2 separate regions of the Homo sapiens genome follow, and region 1 is linked to region 2. A link means that fine-mapping ties the variant in region 2 to the expression of a gene that starts in the linked region. Tissue or cell type: whole blood. Region 2 holds a variant in brackets; the other region holds the start of a gene. All regions are shown on one strand. Distances are between the middles of the regions.

Region 1 (8,455 bases), 40 kb after region 2:
AGTTGGGCTAAAAGCAGAGGATTAGATAACAATACCTAAGTATATCATTAGATACTCACCAACATAAGTGCTGTTACATATATGTGCACCTGTGCCTGCTTCCAGAAGACTACTACACCTCCCATCTCTATTTTTTGTAGACGCTCAACAGCATCAGAGAAAAAGAGGTATAAAATACTGACATTTGGATGTTACACTAATAAGAAGCCCATAATACTCACCAACATAAGTGGTGTTACATATATGTGCACATGTGCCTGCTGCCAGAAGACTACTGCACCTCTCATCTCTCCTATTTTTTGTAGACGCTCAACAGCATCAGAGAAAAAGAGCTGTAAAATACTGACATTTGGATGTTACACTAATAAGAAGCCCTTTCGTGCAGATGAAAGGACATGTTATGCACAGACACCCTCTGAGAGGTTCTCAAGTAAGAGACAGGTAACAACCACAGATATGTGAGGAAAACCTCCAAAATGAAAGCAAGAGCTTATAAAATCAAACAGAAATAAAAAAGAACCTGGAAGAAACAAAGCAATGCACAGAGAAGGCCAAAGTTATAATTTATATCCTTAGAAGGCAAAACAAAGTTATAATTTATATCCTTACAGCAAAAAGAGAAAATATAGCAGCCATATAGAAAGCAAAATAGAATGCTATAACTCATCAACAACAGAGAACACAAAGTCGCTCTTTGAATTAAAAAAGTAGAATAGCAGAAATAAAAAAATTCAGTAGGAAGGTTGGAAGATAAAGCCCAGGATATCTGCTATAAAAACAAATAAACAGATGAAAATATTTTTTAAAACCGAAATATAAGAATGATTAGAATTAGATTAGGATCTGTCAGGAAATTTAACTTCAAAGAAACAGCATTTCCAGAAAAAGAGAATAGAAAGAGGGAGAAGAGAAAAATCATCAAAGAAACAATAGAAGAAAATTACACAGAATTTTTTAGACACGGATTTCCATATTGAAAGGCCTCTTAAGAACCTAGCACAATCAGTGAAAAAATACACATCCCGAAGCTCATTACTGTGAAAATTTCAAGCACCAGGGATAAACAGATCATAAAAGTTTTCAGAGAGGGAAATACAAAAGGCATGACAATCAGAAAGTAGGACTAGAGGCTAGGGAAGCATAAGACACAGGACTTTAACATTATTTGACTTCTAAAACAATGAACAGAAATTTTTATAAACACTAAGCAATAATAACTGCACAAAAGTACAAAATAAATAAACGAATAAAAAATAATTTTTTTTTTTGAGATGGAGTTTCGCTCTTGTCACCCAGGCTGGGGTGCAGAGGTGTGATTTCGGCTCACTGCAACCTCTGTCTCCCAGGTTCAAGTGATTCTCCTACCTCAGCCTTGCCAGTAGCTGGGATTACAAGCGCCCAACACCACACCCGGCTGATTTTTGTATTTTTAGTAGAGACGAGGTTTCGCCATGTTGGCCAGGCTTGTCTCGAACTCCTGACCTCAGGTGATCTGCTTGCCTCGACCTCCCAAAGTGCTGGGATTACAGGCGTGAGCCACCACGCTCAGCCAAAAAATAAATTTATTTAATGTTCTTTAGTAGTACCATTGTTTTAAATATACTGTGTTAACTCATTTAACTCTCATAACACCCCAGGAGACTATTAGCCTCATTTCACAGGTGAGGAAACAGGCATTGACAGGTCAAGTAATTTCTCCATAATGACACAAGTAGCAAGTCGTGGAGCCAAAGTTCTAGCTTTCTGAACGTGGTCTTTTTAAAAACTGCAAGATAACATCTCTCAACTGTAAAAGTAAAATTAATTTTAAGAAAGAAAAGAAAATACTACTTGAATTCCCTACCTTGCTGATCTGTTCCTAGACCAACTATGGTTAATTAAAAGTTCTGCCATCATGAAAAACGCTATGCTCCTTGCCAAGCCACAAAAGTGGATGTGTATTTGTGAAGGGGGAGGGGGTGGAGATTTGAGGGTATTTCCTAGTATTTTGAATATTCATGTGTAAAAGGACTTTATGTTATGTGCTTGTGATCTGCTGCTAGATAGTCCATAAAGCAGATTCCGTAACCTAATTGCATTGACAACCTCCACCAAAGGAAATGATGCACTTACATCAGATCACCACTGCGTATTAAGAACAAAGCCTATAAAAATTGCATTAGAAACAGCATAGCTCTCTGTTTTCTAAATTATTTTCATCTACGCCGTTCACATTCTTCGAGCCTTGCAAGGAAAATCTCCTTAATTTTCCTAGTCATTTACATGACTATTAAATATACTGATGCGACAAAAAAAATCACGCTCCTTTACTCACTGTTGCCTTTCACACATCTTTACCTTGTATTATTAACTACATAATGACAGTTGAACATTTTCACGTGACTTTCTTCTGTAGGAGTTTGTGTCATTCACAGCCTCCTACATTTGCTATCCTATCCATTTTGTGTTTTATCGTTACCTACTAACGGGATTCTGGCTTTAGTGGGGGAAGGAAAAAGAGAGAAATACTTATGTCTCTTTTTGAACAATTTTTTATTTCTTTTCAGACCTGGTAACATCAACATTCCCTGGGTATGATAAGGGCGTTAGCATGCAGGTTTAGCATTTCCTTTCTTGGGACTAATAAATTCTCATATGCTAAAGTAGTGGCTTTTGAGATCTCAGACCGCTGCTTCGAAACTCATTCTAATGCAACAGACCTCCTGGGTCATTAGCTGTCGCCCCGCGCAATCTAGGAGTTCCTTTTTCCCACACCTACAGCGGTCCACTTTCTGCCTGTCATGGCCTTCATTTCTGAATCTTTTTTTGTAAGAGGGGGAGGGGTGTTGGTTTTGGGTTTGGATTGATACTTGGTAGCTGCAGCCACCTTTAAGGTCCTGATGCATCAGGGACAGCATCACTGGTCTTCCCAATACGTGGGTGACCGGATCCTAGGCTGTCCGGCCTAGGTGTCAGCCTCGCTCACGGGAAGTTCCTCACCCGCGGCCACAGCGCTTGCACCGTCCCCACAGCCTCCAGGGTCCTGCGTACCCGGCACGAAGGTCACATCCCCCGCGCAGGTGTGACGCGCGCTCGCGCACTCACCGTCTCCTTGGCAGCCGCCACTGGGATGGGCAGCATCCCCCGGCCGCGGGGCGGGTCCTCGGGCTCCGTGGCCGCGCTCTTTGAGGGTCGCCCGGTCGCCGGCGAGCCGGCCCTGGGGTCCCCGTACAGCTGGTAGCATACCAGGCCGACCAGCCCCCCGCCGGCCGCCGCCGCCACGCTCAGCTCCCCCCAGCGCCGCCGCCGCCTCCATGCCGCCTCCGCCACAGCCCTCTCCTCATCCTCTCGGGAGGAGAAGGGCCGGCCAGGAAGGCCCAGGGTGGTCACCGCAGGCCGCCCCCACGGCCCAAGGAGGGGCTGGTGAGCGCAGAGTGGAGGAGACACCCGGGGTGGCGGCCACAAGAGCCTTCGCAGCGCAGCCATAGCGGAGGCCGCCCACACCAGAGCTGGGAGGGGGCAGAGAACGGAGGGGCGGGGGCGGGGGGGGGGGTCGCCGAAATCTCGCGAGAAGTCGGTGCCGCGAGCTTCGCGGCCGGCCGAGAGCGACCCCTACACTCGCGCGGCCCCGGGGACCCGCGACGCCACCTTCAGCGTAGCGGTCCCGTGGTTCGGCCCGGGAAGATCATGGAAGAGGCGGCGGATCCCGGCTGCTCCCCGGCCCCGAACCCCCAGCCCAACCACGCAGTCATAAATAACCGCGCCAGCCCGGCGACACCTGGCTACGCGACAGCGCGACACTGCGGGCACAGCCGAGTCAGCGTAACTGAGGCGCGGCCGAGTGCGGGGCTCTCTGGGGCCCGCGCCGCTGCTACGGGCGGGGTGGGTCTCCGAGCTGGGCTCAGCGCCCGTCTGGGACACTCACATTCCCTAACGGTCTCCTGACCTCAGGAAACTCAAGGTCTTGACTCAAGGTCGTGAACGATTTGCAATTGTATCTTCACATATACGACACAAATGAGGTATAAGCATTTGGCTCAAGTCATAACGATTGCAAATTAAGGCAAACACTTTGACGACTGAAGGGCAGCTTCCGGACTTTTGATGGGAGAAGGCTAATGCTGTTTTTTAGAAGCATTAGCACACCCGCGGTCACTTAATTCAACAAATCAGAACTGTCTTGTGCATATAAAAGTTAAAAATTTTAAAACTTCTGTGAATAAAGATAAAATCTTGAACGATACCCTGATTTTTCAGGGAAGCGCTGTTTGTATAAATATAAAATAAATGAGAAGCGTATTGTGTCATCTTTTTGTTTTTACTGTACTTTTTGTTTGCTATGTTATCAGTATCAGTTTTTATGAGAAAGTGTAGATGAAGTTCCTATCAGTTTCTCTCCCCAGACCCCAGTTTTGGTAACTTGAATTATGTTAGCTTTTTCTTCCTACTATGGAATGGTGCCAGGAGTCCCTAAAATATTGTGGATCTAAGGGGACAGACAACTAAATACAGTGGTCTCAATTGGGCTGCAGTGACAAGAGAATACACCATCAGTTGATTCTGGCAATTCTTGTAAAGACTAAAGGCTTTCAGAGACGACCAAATGAGTTTTTTCTGGCTCAGGTCCTACAATTTCTTCCCTTTTTTTTTTCTTTTTTTGAGACGGAGTCTTGCTCTGTTGCCCAGGCTAGAGTGCAGTGGCACATTCTCGGCTCACTGCAACGTCCGTCTCCCTGGTTCAAGCGATTCTCCTGCCTCAGCCTCCCGAGTAGCTGGGATTACAGGCACCCGCCACCGTGCCTGGCTAATTTTTGTGTTTTTAGTAGAGATGGGGGTCTCACCATCTTGGCCTGGCTGGCCTCGAACTCCTGGAGGTCCTGCAATTTCTATTCCTAACACCTTGCATGTAAATAGCACATCAGGTACACCCTGTTACCTCTTATTTTAATAGAGGTTAATGGCATTTTGCTTTCTTAAAGCTGCTAAAAGCGGTAAGAAGAAAAATCTTCTGTAGCAGATGAACAAATTTTGTGTATTTTAAAACCTGTCTCTGAGTTTTCTTCAGTTTCAGCCTGTGGGTTTTATGGAGTCAATGCCTAAGGAAGACTCTGATAGCGTCTTGCTTTATCACCAAATTTTCCTCAATTTATGCTTTCTCTATATTCTGTGAAATGGTAGTTTCCCCAAATAAATTATCTTCTGGGTAATAATTATATATATTATATATAATATAATAATCATATTGGCCGGGCGTGGTGGCTCACACTTGTAATCCCAGCACTTTGGGAGGCCGAGGCGGGTGGATCATGAGGTCAGGAGATAGAGCCCATCCTGGCTAACACGGTGAAACCCCATCTCTACTAAAAATACAAAAAACTTAAAAAAAAAAAAGCCAGGTGTGGTGGCATGCGCCTGTAGTCCCAACTACTCAGGAGCCTGGGACAGGAGAACTGTTTGAACCCGGGAGGTGGAGGTTTCAGTGAGCCGAGACTGTGCCGCTGCACTCCAGCGTGGGTGACAGAGCGAAACTCTGTCTCAAAAAAAAAAAATTATAATAATAGTTCTGACACTGTTTACTTTGAACTGAACATGATTTCCTGATTTTCTCATAAATTCTTATTATAGTCTAATGCCAGAATTCTTGGACAAACTGATCAATTTTTACTAGTTGCATGTTAAAAGCTAAGTAGTTCTAAAGAAGATTAGGGAGGTAATACAATAACATCACATTACAGATGAGGAAAATGACATCCTTCATCTAAGATGACAAATACAGACACATACGTATAGATTTCTATGTAGTTTCTCTATAGTTTTCTAAATTTGATAGAGCTCCTGCAAACAATTTATCTGGTTAGAAGCTAAGTACTGCTGTGAGAAGGGCTAAGTTTATGTTTGTAGATCAGTCAGAGAACTTTGGATAAAATACCTCTCACGTGCAAAAACAGCTTTACTAATAATTTTCAACAGTACTTTCCCTCTAAAGGTGAAATTTCCTTAAGAATAGTTACTGTTTTCTTCCCACGTTTGATGCTCTGTAACTATAGCTACACAAAAATAACCAAATTCCCTTGTTATGTGGATATTTTTCTGAGTTTAATTCCCAGAGGAAAAATTTTAAGAAAATATGATATTAGGAATTTGGAACCTTTTTTTTTTGAAATTTCAGGTAATATTGTTGGATCAATATAGAGTCAACCCAGTATCCCTTATCTTTTATGTCAATTCTACTGAGCATTAAGAATAACCCCCAAAATGCCCCTACTCCACAGTGAGAGCCCACACCTTGAAAGAAATATCCACTTATCGTTCACTATGGTCTAAATAAAAAGAAATGTTCTGAAACAATAAAAATGTTTCAAACAATGGGGATTAAGCCAAAAAGGGTTTTCCAGGAAAGCATATACCTCAGTGAATAAGTAATAAATTAGAAGTGAAGAAATCTGGACTCCAGTCTTGGATTTGCTGCATCTTAATTATAATGCTTTGGAAGCCACAGTCTCTAAAATAGTGGAGTTGAAATAGATGATCACCCCTGAACCCATCTTTCTAATGAACTAAAATGCTCCAAGTGTATCAGTAAACCATAGAAAGATACTTCATGGTATTTTTCATGTATCATTTCTCTTCTGAAAATCTACAATTGGCCTAAGATTGTTTTATTCTTTCAACTTAAAATTCCATCCCCGGACCACGCAGGCTAACGTCTGTAATCCCAGCACTTTGGGAGGCCAAGGTGAGTTGATCACTCAGGAGTTCGAGACCAACCTGGGCAATATGGCAAAACTTCGTCTCTACAAAAAATACAAAAATTAGCCAGGCATAGTGGTGCGTGCTTATGGTCCCAGCTACTCGGGAGGCTGAAATAGGAGGATGGCTTGAACCGGGGAAAAGGAGGTTGCAGTAAGCCATCACTGAGCCACTGCACTCTAGCCTGGGTGAGAGAGCAAGACTATGTTTAAAAAAAAAAAAATCCATTCCTTTATCTAATTATTTTAACCTTCTACTGCATTTAAAATTGCAAATACGTTAGTGATTTTGAAAAGTTTGAAAAAGTGGAATATAAGTGCAATAGGCAGGAATGTCTTGTTTAACAAAACTTCTATTAAAATATACTGCATTCCTTATTTTGGTCATTCTGAGCTCCAGATTCTTGACTAGTTAAAAGAGCAGCAGTTACATCTGAGATCTGTATCAGGGCACATGAACCACCCCATCCCCAGGTCCACTCAAGTCTACCAGCAGAGAGCAAGGTTGCAACCATCTTCTTCTCTCTTGGGAAAGTTGTCATCATTTTCTCAAATTGCCTTCCACCTTCCATGCTGTCTTCCTTAGGGCAAAACTGACATAGGAGACAGTGTTGGGGAAGGTATGTTCTTGCTCTGTTTTCTTCAAAGTGCTACCCACCAGCAATCTAGAACTCAATTCCTCAGCATCCAGGGCTATGGAAACCAAGTTACACAAGACACTGAGGGTCTGTTTTCTGTTTTGATGAGCTCTCATTCCCAAAGACTGTGATCTGTATCTCACCCTTTTTCCATTAGGCAAAGCCAAGCTGACTCTAAGCAACATGAGGCCAGGGTATGCATCTTCTAGCCCAGTTCCTGGCACACATTAGGACCTCAATTATATTTACTAAATGAAAAGCAATGTCTTGAAAAGGGGGGAAGGTGGAGGTCAACATAGGAAGGCAAGTTAGGTGACAAGGAAATACAATGGCCCATCAGACACTAAACAAGCTGACAAACCAAGCAGCACATCAATGAGGAAATGCAATCAACACAGATGGGAGGCCAAAGGGAAAAAGCAAGGGACTGGCAAAGAAGGATCACAGATAGAGTGTGGGCTAGGTGAAGTGGCTCACACCTGTAATCCCAGCACTTTGGGAGGCCAAGGCAGGAGGATCATTTGAAGCCAGAAGTTCAAGGCCGGCCAGAGAAACATAGTGAGAACCTGTCTCTACAAAAATTAAAATTAAAATTAGCCAGGAGTGGTGGTGCATGCCTGCAGTCCCAGCAGCTCAGGAGGCTGAGGTGGGATGATTGCTTGCCCCAGGAGTTCGAGGCTGCAGTGAGCTATGATCATGCCACTGCACTCCAGCCCCTGGGTGACAAAGCAAGACCCTCTAAAAAAAGGGGAGGGGGGTGGACAACAAAGTATGATCATGCAGAAAGCTTGATTCAAGAACAGATTTTGTGATTTTCAGATTCTAGCACTGAAGTTATCCTGTTACTATGATTTGGCCGTATCCTCCTGGACTAGAGCCTTAAAGCCATAGGTTTTCCCCAAGGCTCTCTCCATTTTTTTTTTTTTCTAGGCGGAGTCTTGCTTTGTCACCAGACTGGAGCGCAGTGGCGCGATCTCGGCTCACTGCAACCTCCGCCTCCCAGGTTCAAGCAATTCTCCTGCCTCAGCCTCCCGAGTAGCTGGGACTACAGGCGAGCGCCACCATGCCCAGCTAATTTTTGTATTTTTA
Region 2 (8,000 bases):
GCAGAATTTAAATGCAGGCATGTATTTACTAGGTATAGGGTAGGCATATCGCCAATTTTAGTAGATAATGCCAAATTGTTTTCCAAAGTGAGTATACCAACACATGAGATTTACCAGTAATCTACATTTTCACCAGCCCTTAGAAACGTCCACCTTTTTATTTTCTGACAATCTGGAGGATAAAAAAAGGAACTCTGATGTGATTTGATTTGCCAAAAAATCATAAAATATATAAAAATACATAATATATTTTATGAAATATATTTTAATTATATATGTATATATGCATGCACATATAAAATTTGTGTATATCTACCAAGAGCTTTAACTCACCTGTTTGGAAAGTGACTTCCAAGTTTTGGCAACTAAAATAAACAAATGTAAGATAATTAGATAATAAATACTTCATGGAATATATATCCATATTTGCTAACCATCTACAACCATAACTCATAACCAAACTTTTATGTCCAAAAGGCAAAGTTTTCTTTTAACCTCAAAATTTGGATCTGTGATATGATCTTATATATGTTATCTATTTGCTTCATATATACTATGCACTGTTCATAGTAAGTATCAGTGATACAGGAAACATTTCTCCACAGCCGTATCATCTTAATTTGGGCTTTCTGGACTAATAAAGTAAGCTAACTTTCTCCATGTTAAACATCTTGTGGGCTTAAAAGCACAAATAATGATACTTATAAAATATTCAAACTAGAATATAAAATAACATTAACATAGATAAACTATAATTTTAAGGTATTACTTGTGATCTTTGCTATACTAGTGTTCCATGACGTAATTCACAGGTCAGGTCTCTCTAGGATGAAGAAGGATTGGGGAAAGAAAAAAAGAAAGGAAAGGGAGGCTAGGCAAAGTGATGGGGAAACTTGTCCTGTTTCATTACTCTTCCCTACAACTATTCAAGAAGCATCACTGGAGTAAGAGTGTTACAGCTGAATAAAATGTCAGGGATCACTTTCTTTTTGTGATTCCTCCTCACACCCCCAAAGATCTCAAACACTGTAAAACTTAAAATGTTGGGACAAATGTATAGTCAGTATTGCTATTTCCTTTGCTCACATTTGAACACTGTAAATATTTAATGCCTGCCTAAGAATTAGCACCAGGTTTACATTTGATTAAGCCCTGTAATACAGCTGTATTAGGAAACTGGTTAATATTAATTATTTCAGCTACATTACAATAATGCCAACCAACATCTTCTTCTACCTGGCAATGGGGCTATTTCTGTATAATTAACAATATATCAAATTCAAAATTACAAAAAAAGCAATTTTTGCTGTGTAGTTTTTTCTTTATTAGGCAACAAAACAACTCAATTTAAAATCAAAAGAGAAGAAATATGTTTCTAAGGATAGATTTCTTCTTTATGTAGCAACAACATCCTTCATCTATCCAAGATAGTTGATACAAATGTGTAATCAAGTGATTCAAATCACAGGTCTACAAATTAGAATTTAGCATGTAAACTTAACTATGACACTGGTGCAAAGACACTTCCCTTTTAACAATGAACAGAACAATACAAATAGTATTTATTATTCTGTTGCTCTTAAAATATAGCAGTAAGGAAAGAAGAAAAATAAATGGTAGAAAAGTACATGCACGTGCTCTTATGCAATGCTCAGAAGGTATTTATCGGAAGAGGAAGTTAGAGGTACTCTTGAGTTTTGCAGGGTTTATGAGATTTCCATGGTAAATTATTCACAAAAGACATATTCATTCTGTCGGAAATGTCACCATGTTCAATACTATTATCTTTTTAAATAAAGACTAAAGAGCCATTAAGATTGCTCTTCAAAGGATTTTCTGAATTCCTTATTTCATATGAAGTTACTGCACATATAAATATAACTTAGGTGAAGAAGGACTTCAATTCTAGTGGAAATATTATTTCTTAAGCTGTAGGTTGATGTTCATTATATTTTTAATACGTTTTTGTATGTCTGAAAAATTTAATATATTTTTAAAAATCTAAATTAAAATAATTCTTGATGCTATGTTGGAAAATAATTACTGATTTTAGTTCTAGAAAAGAAAGTCACCATTTAGGTTCTATTTAAGTATGCAAAATAAGATTATAATGCAAAATCATAATCAACAGATATCTCAACATTTATTTGATCTATAATTTTTAAGCAAATATTTACACAGCATACCATTTTTTCCCTGTTGAATGTCATCATAAAATGATATCAAAAACTTTCAAAAATAATGGCTATGATTTTAAACAGCGAAAAAAATGGTGTGCCGTGTAAATATTTGCTTAAAAATTATCACAGCTATGGGCTGGGCATGGTGGCTTACGCCTGTAATTGCACCCCTTTGGAGGCCGAGGCAGGAGGATCACCTGAGGTCAGGAGTTTGAGACCAGCCTGGCCAATATGGTTAAACCATGGTGAAACTCCAGCTCTGCAAAAATACAAAAATTAGCTGGGCATGACAGCAGCTGCCCGTAATCCCAGCTATTCAGGAGGCTGAGGCAGGAGAATCACTTGAACCCAGGAAGCGGAGGTTGCAGTGAGCTGAGATCACCCCATTGCGGTCCAGCCTAGTTGACAGAGCGAGTCTCCTCTTGGGGAAAAAAAAAAAAAATCATGGCTATGAATTCTGATGACGATGATGATGACATACCAATATTAAATGTTTACTGTGTGCCAGGTACTATACTAACCATAATTCATTCGATCTTCAAGAAAAACTTCATGAGGCTGTTATTTTTATAAATGAGGAAACAGAAGATTAAATAACCAAGTTTTCAAAGCCAGTAAATGCCAAGGTTTAAACACAAGTCAAATTTCATTACGCTACAGTTTTAACATATCTGATTTAATACTCAGTACATGAAACATTGTTCTATTCTTTTCCTTTTCTAAAACCCCAACTTTCAAAACAGGATTTATGAATATCTTGATCTTTTGTGATTGTTCCTAATTATGTTTGAAAAGTGCTGGTTAGAAATTAACTGAAGTTGTGGTTGTAAAATATCCTGTATAACTTTTCTATAATAGAAACCAGTTTTTTACTCTTAAGTTATGGTTTTAAAATATCTATGAGAAGAATCACCACAAAAGTTATTTCCAAAAAGCAAAATCGAACAGTGTGCTTCCAGTGAATGTATTCTGAAGAAAAAAATTCTAGAAAATAATGAAGTAAAATTTTTCAAAATATGAAACTGTGGCCAGGCACAGTAGCTCACGCCTGTAATCCCAGCACTTTGGGAGGCTGAGGCAGGTGGACTGCTCGAGCCCAGGAGTTCAAGCCAAGCCTGGGAAACATAGCAAAACCCTCTCTCTACAAAAAAATTTAAAAAATTAGCTGGTGGCATGGTGGCATGTGCCTGTAGTCCCAGCTACTTGGGAGGCTGAGGTGGGAGGATCACTTGAGCCTCGGAGGTTGAGGTTGTAGTGAGTAGTGATCACGTCACTGAACTCCAGCCCGGGGGACAGGGCAAGACCCTGCCTCAAAAAAAAAAAAAAAAATCTAT[A/CTA]TATATATATATATATATATAGATTATTAACAATCACTTAAAGAATAGCTTTCAAATATGTTTGAAAAAATTATAGAATTTGATATAAAATACCATTTAGCATCTAACAAATTCCTTCCTTCAAGAAATATTTATTGTGTACCTATCATGTGCCAGGTAACCATATTCTACCTTGGAGATGGTTCTGTATCTTACGTCGTCTTATAATATCGTAAGTTTCCTGAGTGCACAGACTTTGTATCCCCCTTAGCACACAGAAAAGAACCTTAATACAGAAGCAGACATATAAATATTCCATACATTTTTATTTAATTGATTTGGTACAACATGGTCTCTATATTTATTAGCAAATTAGTATTAAATCTATACTAACTCACTAATAAAGAATCTACATTGTACCAAATGGATTAAATAAAAAGGATATAACACTTATCACAGCCTTAAAATTCGTAAATAAAAAAAAAAAGAACTCTACTTAATTTTTCACCTTTCCCATCACTATATGGCCCTACATATTCCCAAAGTGGCTACTATGACTATACCATATACTGTCTTGATTTCATGTTTTTGCTTATGTAGTTTACATTTCTTTAAACGTTACTCTCATAGTTTCTTGTTAAAATCTTTTTTTTAATTTAAAATCTTGCATAATCAAAAGTGTCTACTTCAAATTCCATTACAGCTACCTTTCAGTTCCTTTCTCTTTTGCAATCAAATATTGTAAGAGAGTCCTTTACACTCATCGTCTTCATTTCTTCATCTGCTACTCACTCCTGCAATTGCCCTAATGACTCCACTGAAACATCATTTTAAAAAACCATCAATAACCTTCATGTTTTTAAATCTAGTGGACATTTTCCTGTTCTTATCTAACTTGAATTCTCAGTAACACTGCACTCAATTGGCAATTCTGGCTATTTTACTCGGCTTCCATGACTACATACCCTTATGATTTTCTTCCTATGTCTCTGGCCACTCCTATGTCCCCTTTTCTCATCCTTTCAAAGCCTTTTGTCCATTCATCTTTTAAAGAGCAGAAATTCCTCAAGGCCTAGTCTTTGGTTATCTATATTCTCATCCTATACAGCTTCCCTAGGCAATTTCATTCATACACATTCTATGAATTAGCAATAATGCAAAGATGAATCCTAAATATATACCTGAATCTCTTCCTTGATATCCAGTGGAAATAATCCAAAGAATCAAAAATTCATTAAAAGTTACTATGTCAAGTAGCCAATTTGTCAAATTATTGAGGATTTATTTTAAGGTTCATTTTTGCCATATTGCTGTCTCTGGAGGAAAAAATGGCTATAATTGTTCTAGTCTAAGTTAAAGTATTTGTGTGACAGTTTAAAGTAGATATGGGTCGAACAAATGATTATTTGTTATACTGATTTTTAGTGAGTGATCTTTCAGTGAAGTGAAATGAATTATTTTTTAAAAAAATACACTGTATCCTTTTATATATCCAAGGTATCTCAAATAGACATGACCAAAATTGAAATTGTGATTTTTCTCCTCAAACCTGGTCCCTAGTGCCATCCATCCAGGTAAGCCAGCCAGAAATCCTCGGTTCTCATTACTCTTTTACCACCATCTATAGAGACTTTTGAAGCTGCAACTACCACCAGCCAATTGTGATACAGTATCAAAGGAGAGTACCTATAATAATCTAAAAAGGCAATTAAAATACTCCTTTTTTTACTGTCCATGTCTGTGAGGTAGATTTTCTTCATATATTTCATGGAAAACAACATATTATAACAGATCAAATAAAAAAGCACACATGAGAATACAGCTGTCTTCTGTTAAGTTAGATATTAAGAGATTTGCAAGAATGTACATACTTCCAAAAATTTTGAGAACCATTATTCTAACATATGAAAAGGTGAGAGACAATGAAACTATTAATATATTTACACTGCAGGAGCTATGACAAACGCAGAAGAGATACAGGTAGAATTCTTGCCCAGGGCTAACCTCAAAGCCAGTCCTCTGAACTACTCTGTTCAGGTTTGATATAAGAATGAAGAGGCAGAATATGAGTCTTTTATAAAGAGTATCAAAAGTAAGATGGTGTTAAGCTGAGAAAGATGGAGCAATTGAAAGTTTCTGAAAAGAGAAGAGATGTGAGTAAGAGTTTGTAAGAAATATCAGTCTGTAACACTGAATAGCACAATATCATGTGAAATACCACATTACTCAGTTCTTCTAAAAAACTTATACTGCTCCATCCATTCACAAGCTAGAGATAAAAAAATTATACAATTATTAAGATAATTTCAAAAGTGTACTTACCTTTGGGCTCATCTGTTGTAACAGCCAAAATAAAATCATACGGAGTCATGAATAACTGCCCTTCACATTCTATAGAAGCAAATAAACGAAATCGCCTCTCCCGAGATGTGGCATAAAGGTCTAAGTCTTCAATGTCTGTTCTGCCAATAGCAACCTAAAGTTAAGAAAGCAAATACATTTGGATGATGTGAAGTAATACCTCCCTCTAGAAGATACTTTTAATTATGTTGAAAGTGAATAAACAGAGTAAATGAGGAAGTGTGAAAATATCGTCTTCTGAAAAACGTTAATCACTTTATAAATAAATTATTCACATAAATAAAATAAATTAATATTCGAAAGATTCTACAAAAAATATCATTAAGAGCTTAAGGATTTTAAACTGGCACTTTGGAGAAGTGATTTGTGATTTTTTTTTGGTTTATTTCTTAAGCTTCAGTCTTAAAGAACATTAAATTATGGAGCCAGTGGTACTTTTAGAAGGAACACCAGCGCTTGCTGAATGCCTACTATGTACTCTTATAGGCTAATGTATTTAATTACAAGTCTATTCACTAACATCCACTAATTTTCTAAAAGAATAAAGTAAAATCCCAATAGGCTACTTATAACTACCACTAAGGAAACCATTAGTGGTAATATTTAGATTAGAAGTGAAATTGCTAGTTCCAGATCACTACAGTATAGTGGCCATCATTGGTCTGAATTTTAGGGGTCTCTTTTCCTTCAAGACCTTTCCTTGTAGATAATATTCCATTGTTATTTTCTCTCTGAAGTAACTAGAGCAATTTTTTTTAATAAAAGGATTTATTTTCCTGATTACAAGAGAAATGCAAAGCTCTTACATGTAATTTAGAAGACAGAATTGTAAAAAATTTGTTAAGTATAATTTTGTTTTCTTTTTGGCAAAAAAGTGGGATTTTACCATACATGCTTCAATAACCTGATCTTTTTCACTTATCAATTATCAGGGCCATTTTTCTATGTCACTAAATATTCTAGTAGTTACCGTATAAAATTAGAAGACAGAATCTAAAAATTTATAGATAGAATTGTTTTTGCTTTCTTTTGGCAAAGAAAATGGGATTATACCATATATATCATTCAGTAATCTGACCTTTTTACTTACTAAAACTTCGGGGCCATTTTCCTGTGTCACTATTCCTGTAGAAGACCATTTTTGTTAACTGTATAATATTCCATAGAAAATGTTTATAGTATAACATAAACAATTCTACTTGGTTATTCATGTTGACTTCTAATCTTTTGCTATTACAAAACAATGGTATAATGACCAACCTTGAAAATATTCAGAAATATCCATAACAGTTCTTCAGGATAAGTTCTTTTTTTTTTTTTTAGACAGAGTCTCACTCTGTCACCCAGGCTGGAGTACAGTGGCATGATCTCAGCTCACTGCAACCTCCACCTCCCAGGTTCAAGCGACTCTCCTGCCTAGCCTCCCTTAATCCTTAGGAGTGAAACTGATTAGTCAAAGAAGACTTTTTAGTCAAACTGTCTTCATGGAGTTTATAGCAATTTACATGATTATCAGTAACACACAAATTATACTTTCACGTATTTTATAAAATGATTTCATATAAGAAAAAACTGTTTAAATATTTAGTACCTTGAGAAGCCATAACAAAAACAACCCAAAGAAACTTTTGGCAAGAATACTACTTTATTTCTAAGTTACATCTTATTAAACGAAAAGCCAGGCAAATGATTAATCTTTTCCATCATTCTGAAGACTAAGACTTCTCAAAACATTACAGGAGTAGTCAAATAAAAACTGAAAAAAAGTTTCGCTCCCCACTTCTAACGGCATAAGAAATGGAAGTTGTGGTGTCTGTCTTTAAGGAATGAATATCAATCTATATGGAAAGAGAGAATGCTGGCTGGAGAGACAAAAGGCACAAACAGAGAAACGGAATGGGTTAAATGCAAGCAAATAGAAGAAAGGTGCCATAGGCTGGGCTTAAAAAGAAGGCTTCAGGAAAAATGATAAATTTTAATGTCAAGAAAAGATATGAACATGTGGAGTTTCTACAGCATATTTGAAAGATGGCCATAATCTTCCTGGGCAGAGGATTCATATTCATGGAGAAGTGTAGTAAAAGGATGGTGAGCTAATGATTTCTGAATGCCAGACTAAAGCCCCGGAGTTTAATTTAACAGTAAA

Evidence for each region. PIP is the estimated chance that this variant, and not a neighbour inherited with it, causes the effect.
Region 1: MICU3 starts here. The variant in region 2 is fine-mapped to the expression of MICU3 in whole blood (INTERVAL, PIP 0.95).

Annotation. Positions count from the first base shown.
Region 1 is chr8:17,022,290-17,030,744 of GRCh38, reverse strand. MICU3 (mitochondrial calcium uptake family member 3) reads right to left here and starts at 3,507. Exons shown (of 15, transcript NM_181723.3): 1 at 3,085-3,507. The coding sequence starts at 3,465. RefSeq lists an enhancer at 2,880-2,969 and a silencer at 3,120-3,529.
Region 2 is chr8:17,062,053-17,070,052 of GRCh38, reverse strand. MICU3 (mitochondrial calcium uptake family member 3) reads right to left here. Exons shown (of 15, transcript NM_181723.3): 2 at 5,816-5,969; 3 at 334-365. Among named protein-coding and RNA genes, the nearest start is that of MICU3, 39 kb to the right of the region's middle. The variant A/CTA (reference allele first, on the strand shown) is at 3,515.